2 linked regions of the Homo sapiens genome follow. The protein of the gene in region 2 purifies or fractionates together with the protein of the main gene of each other region. This does not show direct contact. Each region holds a gene or a part of one and is shown on either strand. Other genes may lie near its edges.

Evidence for each region. The genes of interacting proteins can lie anywhere in the genome.
Region 1: the proteins of WDR12 (region 2) and CHMP7 fractionate together in Homo sapiens (co-fractionation; one large-scale study listed by BioGRID). This does not show direct contact.

What each region holds. Positions count from the first base shown.
Region 1 is NC_000008.11:23,242,158-23,246,436, reverse strand, and holds the start of CHMP7 (charged multivesicular body protein 7), read right to left. Parts: upstream 2,801-4,279; 5' UTR 2,593-2,800; intron 182-2,592; 5' UTR 1-181. UniProt on the Homo sapiens protein: ESCRT-III-like protein required to recruit the ESCRT-III complex to the nuclear envelope (NE) during late anaphase. Together with SPAST, the ESCRT-III complex promotes NE sealing and mitotic spindle disassembly during late anaphase.
Region 2 is NC_000002.12:202,901,674-202,905,173, forward strand, and holds part of WDR12 (ribosome biogenesis protein WDR12), read right to left. Parts: intron 1-3,500.

The DNA.
Region 1 (4,279 bases), on a different chromosome or scaffold from region 2:
CCGAAAGAAAGGCTTGCGCCTGCGCGGCAGGTGGCTGCACCTTACGTCTCCTTCAAGATTCTGGAGTTCGGCAAAGCGTTGTACAGCGGCTTCTGACCTGTGGCTTCAGAAAATGGAACTGGGGAATAGCCGCAGAGGGGCGCCAGTGGTGCCCGGACCACCCGGATGGATCCGTGAATCTCTGTATAGAGGGAAATTTATATCAATGAATGCACAAACCAGAAAAGAAGAAAGATCTAAAATAACCTAAGATTCCACCTTGGGAATCTATAAAAGAAGAACAAATTAAGATCAAATTAAACAGAAGAGAAAAAATAATAAAAAGAGCAGAAATCAATGAAATTGAAAACAAACTCAAAAGATTATCAACAAAACCTAAAGCTGATTTTTTGAAAAGGTCAATGAAATTGATTAACCTCTAGCCTGGCTAACAAAGAGAAAAAACAAATACTCAATATCAGAAATGAAATAAGGGACATTACTGCAGATCCCATGGGCATGAAAATGATAATAAAGGAATACTATGAATAACTGTATGTCCACAAATTTGATAACCTAGACGAAATGGACACATTTCTTGAAAGCACACTCTGCCAAAACACACAAGAGGAAACAGACCACTTGAATATGTTTATATCTAATTAATTGAATCAATAATTAACAACATCCACACAGAAAGCATTAGGCCCAGATGGTTTCATTTGATAAGTTCTACCAAATATTTAAGAAAAAAGTTGTACCAGTTCTGTGCCATCTCTTTTATAAGATAGAAACAAAAGGAATACTTCCCAACTGATCCTATGAGGCAAGGATTACCCTAACGCCAAAACCACACAAAGACATTACAAGAAAGAAAAAACACAAAACAATATATCTTGTGAATATAGATGCAAAAATCATCAATAGAATGTTAGCAAATTGAAACCCACAATGTATCAAAAGAATTGTACACCAGGTTAAAGCGGAATTTATTACAGCTAGGCAAGGCTAGTTCAATGTTCAAAAATCAATTAATATAATCCACCAACAGACTAAAGAAAAATCATATGATCATATTGCTAGATGCAGAAAAAGCATTTGACAAAATCCAACACCAGCTCATGATAAAAAGTCTCGGCACTCTAGGAATAGAGGGACACATCCTCCACTTGATAAAGAACATAAACAGGAACCTTACAGCCAACATAAGAATTAATGGTGAAAACCTAGATCGTTTTCCAGTGGAATCAGGAATAACACAAGAATGTCTGCTCACACCATTCCTAGTCAACACTGTACGGGAAATCCTAGCTAACACAGTTAGCCAAGAAAAAGAAATAAAAGTTGTACAGACTGAAGAGGAAGAAATAAAATGGTCTGTCTTTATAGAAGACATAATTATCCATGCAGAAAATTATGAAAGAATTGCCAAATCGATGTCCTGGAACTAAGAGGCAATGAGAACAAGATTGCAGATACAAAGTTAATGTATAAAAGTCAATTCCCATATACCTATAATGATCAAGTGGAATATGAAATTAAAAATGCAATACCATTTACATTAGCACCCCCCTATAAAACTTAGGTATAAATCTAACACGGTATGTACAAATTCTACATAAGGAAAACTACAAAATTCTGATGAAAGAAATCTATGAAGGACTAAATAAATACAGAGGCATTTTATATTCATGGACAGGAAAACTCAATATTATCAAGATATCAATTCTTCCCAAATTGATCTGTAGATCCAGTGAAATCCCAGTGAAAATCATGGCTAGTTATTTTGTGGATATCAACAAACTAATTCTAAAGTTTATGTGGAAAGGCAAAAGACCCAGAAGAGCCAACACAATATTGAACAAATAAGTCAGAGGACGGATACAACCCAACTTCAAGAATTACTATAAATCAACAGTAATCAAGATAGTGTGGTATTAGTTAAAGAATAAACAAATAGATAAATGGAACAGAATAGGAATCCCAGAAATAGGCACATGTAAATACAGTCAACTGACCTTTCGAAAAAAGAAAGGCAATACAATGGTTCAAAGAGTCTTTTCAACAATGAGCACTGGAACAACTGTACACCTACATGCAAAAACAAAAACAAATCCAGGTACAGATCTTACACCATTCACAAAAGCCAGCTCAAATGGATCATGGACTTAAATGTAAAAACACAAAACAATAAAACTCCTAGAAGACAAAACATCTAGATGACCTTGGGCATCATGATTACTTTTTAGATACAACACAAAAAGCATAATCCATGAAAGAAATAATTGATAAATTAGACGTAATTATTATTATTATTATTATTTGCTTTCTGAAAGACACTGTGAAGAGAATGTGAAGATAAGCCACAGACTGGTAGAAACTATTTGCAAAAGACATCTCTGATAAAGGACTGTTATCCAAAACACACGAGGAACTCTTAAGACTCAAAAAAAAAAGAAAAAGAATAACCCAGTTAAAACATGGATAAAAGATCTGAGCAGACCTCTCACCAAAGAAGATCTACCAACGGCAAATAAGTATATGATAATATGCCCAACATCATATGTCATTGGGGAACAGCAAATTAGACAAGAATAGCATACTACTACACACCTATTAGAATGGTGAAAATCCAAAATACTGACCACACCAAATGCTGGTGAGGATGCAGAGCAACAGGAACTCTCATTCATTGCTGGTGGAAATGCAAACTGGTACAGCTACCGTAAGGTTGGCCAAGAGAAAAGACGAGTATACTCAAAGTCAGGCAAGCAAGTTTATTGACCTGCCGGCCTGCTGCATAACAGTCAGAGGAGGCAGCCCAGGGTGTTTAAGGTGAGGGACTTATATAGGGCTTTGAGGGCCTAGGGGCTTTCTGAGGTTAGTCTACATCCTGCAGTTGTTTGTCACTTCTTGCCCCACCTGGCTTAGAGTACCAGGATGTGGTTTGGCCTGGGGGTGGATACAGCTGTACCTAAGTTCTGGTAACGTGAAGTAGGGGCAGCATCTCAGAAGAAATAAGCTGCAGGGCATTTAGGGGAGGGGGCTTGCTGCGTTCTTCTGTGGACAGGTTGTCTCTAAGAGCTACTTTGGAAGACAGTTTGGTCGTTTTTCACAAAATTAAACATTCTCTTCCCATGCAAGTTTACTTATAGTTTAACTTTGAAACAAAGTATAACAGTCCTTTCCCAAAACAAAACTCCTTACTGCCTGTGGACTAGACTGCCTAGACTGCCACAAGATTAGAAGTTATGGTAATTTTACTAAATCAAGATGTAGCTATTTTCATTAAACCAGTATCAATGTCTTATTTATTAATGGTTACACGAGCAGAGATCATTCTGTCTTGGGCTGGGTTTATAGCCTGTGCCAAATTTTGACACCTAATAGTATTTGGCAGGGTTAAGTATGAAATTGCTTGATTAATAAACGCAAATAAAAATGTATGCTGGCAATTCCTAAGACATTTCTAATATTACTTTACCAATAATTTTAAAGATAGCTTATTTATTAAAGATTTTACTTAAGTCACATAACTTGAAAAAGCATTTGACTAGTCTTTCCTTTTTCTAATAAAGTATTTGATGTAAATGCTTTTATTTTTTAAGACAATTAATTAGAGCTCTTTGATATATTTTCAGGAGTGCAACATTGTATACATAACATATAAATACATAGATGTATTAGGCATGCTGATAGAAGAAGTACATCTTACAGATTCATAAAAACCTTTTTTCTTTATCTTAGACTTTCAGATTCTTGATAACCTGTTTCACAGTGCTAGGCAGTAGTCAGCTAAATAGTCTTAAATTTGCATATTAAAGGAAACAACTCAGGTGAAAGTCAGATAGCAAAATTTACATTATAAGGTCTGAAGAGAAATTCTGTGAGCTAGAGGGAAATTAAAACAGATTTAATTGCCAATTGAACATAAAATTATAGAAATTTATCACTGGATTGTATAAGGAGACCACTGTTATTTAGATAGGGACTACCAATTCTTTTTTAACTGGATCTCTGAGCTCTGGGCAGAGCCCACACTGAATCCTGGGTCTCCAAAAAGGGAGAATTATTATGAGGCTAGACCACATGATGCTTTTACAGTGCACTTAAAACATTTTTGTAAACAAAGCATTTCTAAGTGTCTAAACTATACTCTTTCTTAAAAACCCAAGAGTAGCCTCTGTTGCAATAACTATTTTAGTAAAAAAAAAAAAAAAAATCGAGTGGAAACAGAATTGAGTCAATTGAGAACAAAAAAAGTTTTTGCTCAAAAAAAGACAAGGTCCTAGCAGAGAAA
Region 2 (3,500 bases):
TCCTCCTTTTTCTCCTTGCCATGTATTTGTTGATGAAAGTGGGTCATCTGTTTTGTAACATTCTGGGTTTTGTTGACTCCATCTCCAAGGTGTCCTTTAACATGCTTCTTTATCACACAAATATCCTATAAACTAGTCAGAGGTAAATGGTAAATGCCTGGTTAGATTTCAGGGTTTTTTGGGTTTTTTTTGACAAGAATATTCACAGGCAGTATTGTCTATTTCCTGTTACATCCCATCAGGATGTAAATAGGTTCTGGTTGTGTCTCTTTTTAAGATATTAAGACCCATCATAGGGCTTGGATTATATCAGTCTGATTCTATCCACCATAATGCTCCTTGTCAGTCTTTTACCTAATTATCGGGATTAACAGCTATTGAGAACCAATACTGTACTTACATTCATTTCTTTCAGAGTTGCAATATGGTAACAGTCTATACAGAAGGAATAATGTTCGGTCTATATGTTTAGAAAAATGTTACCCAACTATTTGGGTAACATACTGGAATTGCAAAGCTTCTCTTACAGGAATAATTCTTTCCTCAACAAAATACTTGCAAACCAAATTCAACAACACATTAAGAAGATCATCATGACCAAGTAAGATTTATCCCAGGGATGCAAGAATAGTTCAACATACACAAATCAATGTAATACACTGTGATGGTTAACACTGAGTGTCAACTTGATTGGATTGAAGGATGCAAAGTATTGTTCCTGGGTGTGTCTGTGAAGGTGATGCCAAACGAGATGAACATTTGAGACAGTGGAATGGAAGAGGCAGACCTACCCTCTATCTGGGTAGGTACCATCTAATCAGCTGCCAGCATGGCTAGGATAAAAGGAGGCAGAGGAATGTGGAAGGACTAGACTGGATCAGTCTTCAGGCCTTTATCTTACTCCTGTGCTTCCTGCCCTCAAACATTGAACTCCAAGTTCTACAGCTTTTGGATTCTTGGACCAGTGGTTTGCCAGGGATTCTCAGGTGTTTGGCCATAGACTGAAGGCTGTACTGCCGGCTTCCCTACTTTTGAGGTTTTGGGACTCGGACTGGCCTCCTTGCTCCTCATCTTGCAGACAGCCTATCGTAGGACTTCATCTTGTGATCGTGTGAGTCAATACTCCTTAATAAACTCCCTCTCGGCTGTGCGCAGTGGCTCACACCTGTAATCCCAGTACTTTGGGAGGCCAAGAGTTCAAGACCAGCCTGACCAGCATGGTGAAACCCCGTCTCTACTAAAACTACAAAAATTAGCCAGCCGGGTGTGGTGGCACGCGCCTGTAATCCCAGCTACTCGGGAGGCTGAAGCAGGAGAATTGCTTGAACCCGGGAGGTGGAGGTTGCAGTGAGCCGAGATCGTGCCACTGCACTCCAGCCTGGGCGACAGAGCAAGACTCCGTCTCAAAAAAAACCAAAAAAACAAAAAATCTCTCTTTCATATATACATCTATTCTATTAGTCCTGTCCCTCTAAAGAACCCTAATATATACATCATATCAACAGAATGAAGGACAAAAAGCATATGATCATTTCAATTGATGCTGAAAAAGCATTTGATAAAATTCAACATCCTTTCATGATAAAAGCCCTCAAAAAACTGGGTATAGAAAAACATACTTCAACATAATAAAATTCATATATAATAGACCCCCATACTAAATGGGGAAAAAACTGAAAGCCTTTCCTCTAACATCTGGAACATGATAAGGATGCCCACTTTTACCACTGTTATTCAACACAGCAATGGAAGTCCTAGCTAGAGCAATCAGATGGAAGGAAGGAAGGAAGGAAGGAAGGAAGGAAGGAAGGAAGGAAGGAAGGAAGGAAGTGAGGGAGGGAGGGAGGGAGGGAGGAAGGGCATCCAAATTGGAGAGGAAGATGTCACATTATCCTTGTTTGCAGATGATTTGATCTTATATTTGGAAAAATCAATGATATAACGTTATATTTGATATAATCTTTATTTTACCAAAAACCAATTAGGACTGATAAATTCAGTAAAGTTGCATGATACAAAAATCAGTAGCATTTCTATATGCTAACAGCGAACAATCAGAAAAAGAAATCAAGAAAGTATTTCTACTTACAGTAGCCACAAATAAAATACCTAGGAATTAACCAAAGAAGTGAAAGATCTCTACAACAAAAACTATAAAACATCGATGAAAGACATTGAAGAGGGCTGGGTGCAGTGGCTCATGCCTGTAATCCCAGAACTTTGGGAGGCTGAGACGGGTGGATCACCTGAGGTCAGGAGCTCGTGACCAGCCTGGCCAACATGGTGAAACCAAGGCTGTACTAAAAATACAAAAATTAGCTGGGCGTGGTGGCAGGCACCTGTAATCCCAGCTACTCAGGAGGCTGAGGCAGGAGAATCGCTTGAAACCGGGAGGTGGAGGTCGCCATGAGGTGAGATTACGCAATTGCACTCCAACCTGGGCAACAAGAGTGAAACTCTGTCTCAAAAAAAAAAAAAAAAAAAAAAAAAAGAAAAGAAAAAGAAAAAAAGAAATTGAAGAGGACACAAAAAAATGGAAAGATATTCCAGGATCATGGATTGGAAGAATTTAATATTGTTAAAATGTCCATAGTACCCAAAGCAACCTACAGATTCAATGCAATCCTTATCAAAATACCAATGACATTCTTCACAGAAAAAAAAAAATCCTAAAATTTACATGGAACCACAAAAGAACCAGAATAGCCAAAGCTACCTTAAGCAAAAAGAACAAACTTGGAGGAATCACATTACCTGACTTCAAATTATACTACAGAGCTATAGTAACCAAAACAGCATGGTACTGGCATAAAAACAGACACATACACCAATGGAACAGAATAGAGAAGCCAAAACAAATCCACACATCTACAGTGAACTCAAACCTACACTGGGGAACAGCCAGTCTCTTCAATAATGGTGCTGGAAAAACTGGGTATCCATATGCAAAAAAAATGAAACTAGACCCCTATCTCTTGCCACATACAAAAGTCAAAACAAAAGGGATTAAAGACTTAAATATTTGTAAGACCTCGAACTATGAAACTAATACAAGAAAACATTGGGGAAACTCCCCAGGGCAGTGGTCTGGGCAAAAATTTCTTGAGTAATACCACACAAGCACAGGCAATCAAAGCAGAAATAGACAAATGCGATCCCATCAGGTTAAAAAGCACAGCAAAGGAAACAATTAACAAAGTGAAGAGACAACCCACAGAATGGGAATAATTATTTGCCAACTACCCATCTGACAAGGGATTAATAACCAGAATATATAAGGAGCTCAAAAAGCTCTGTAGGTAAAAATTTAATAATCTGATTAAAAATTGGGCAAAAGGTTTGAACATACATTTCTCAAAAGAAAATTCAAATGGCAAACAGGTAAATGAAAGGGTGCTCACCATCACTGATCATCAGTGAAATACAAATCAAAACTACAATGAGATATCATTTCACCCCAGATAAAATGGCGTTTTTCCCCACCCCTCCCAAGACGGAGT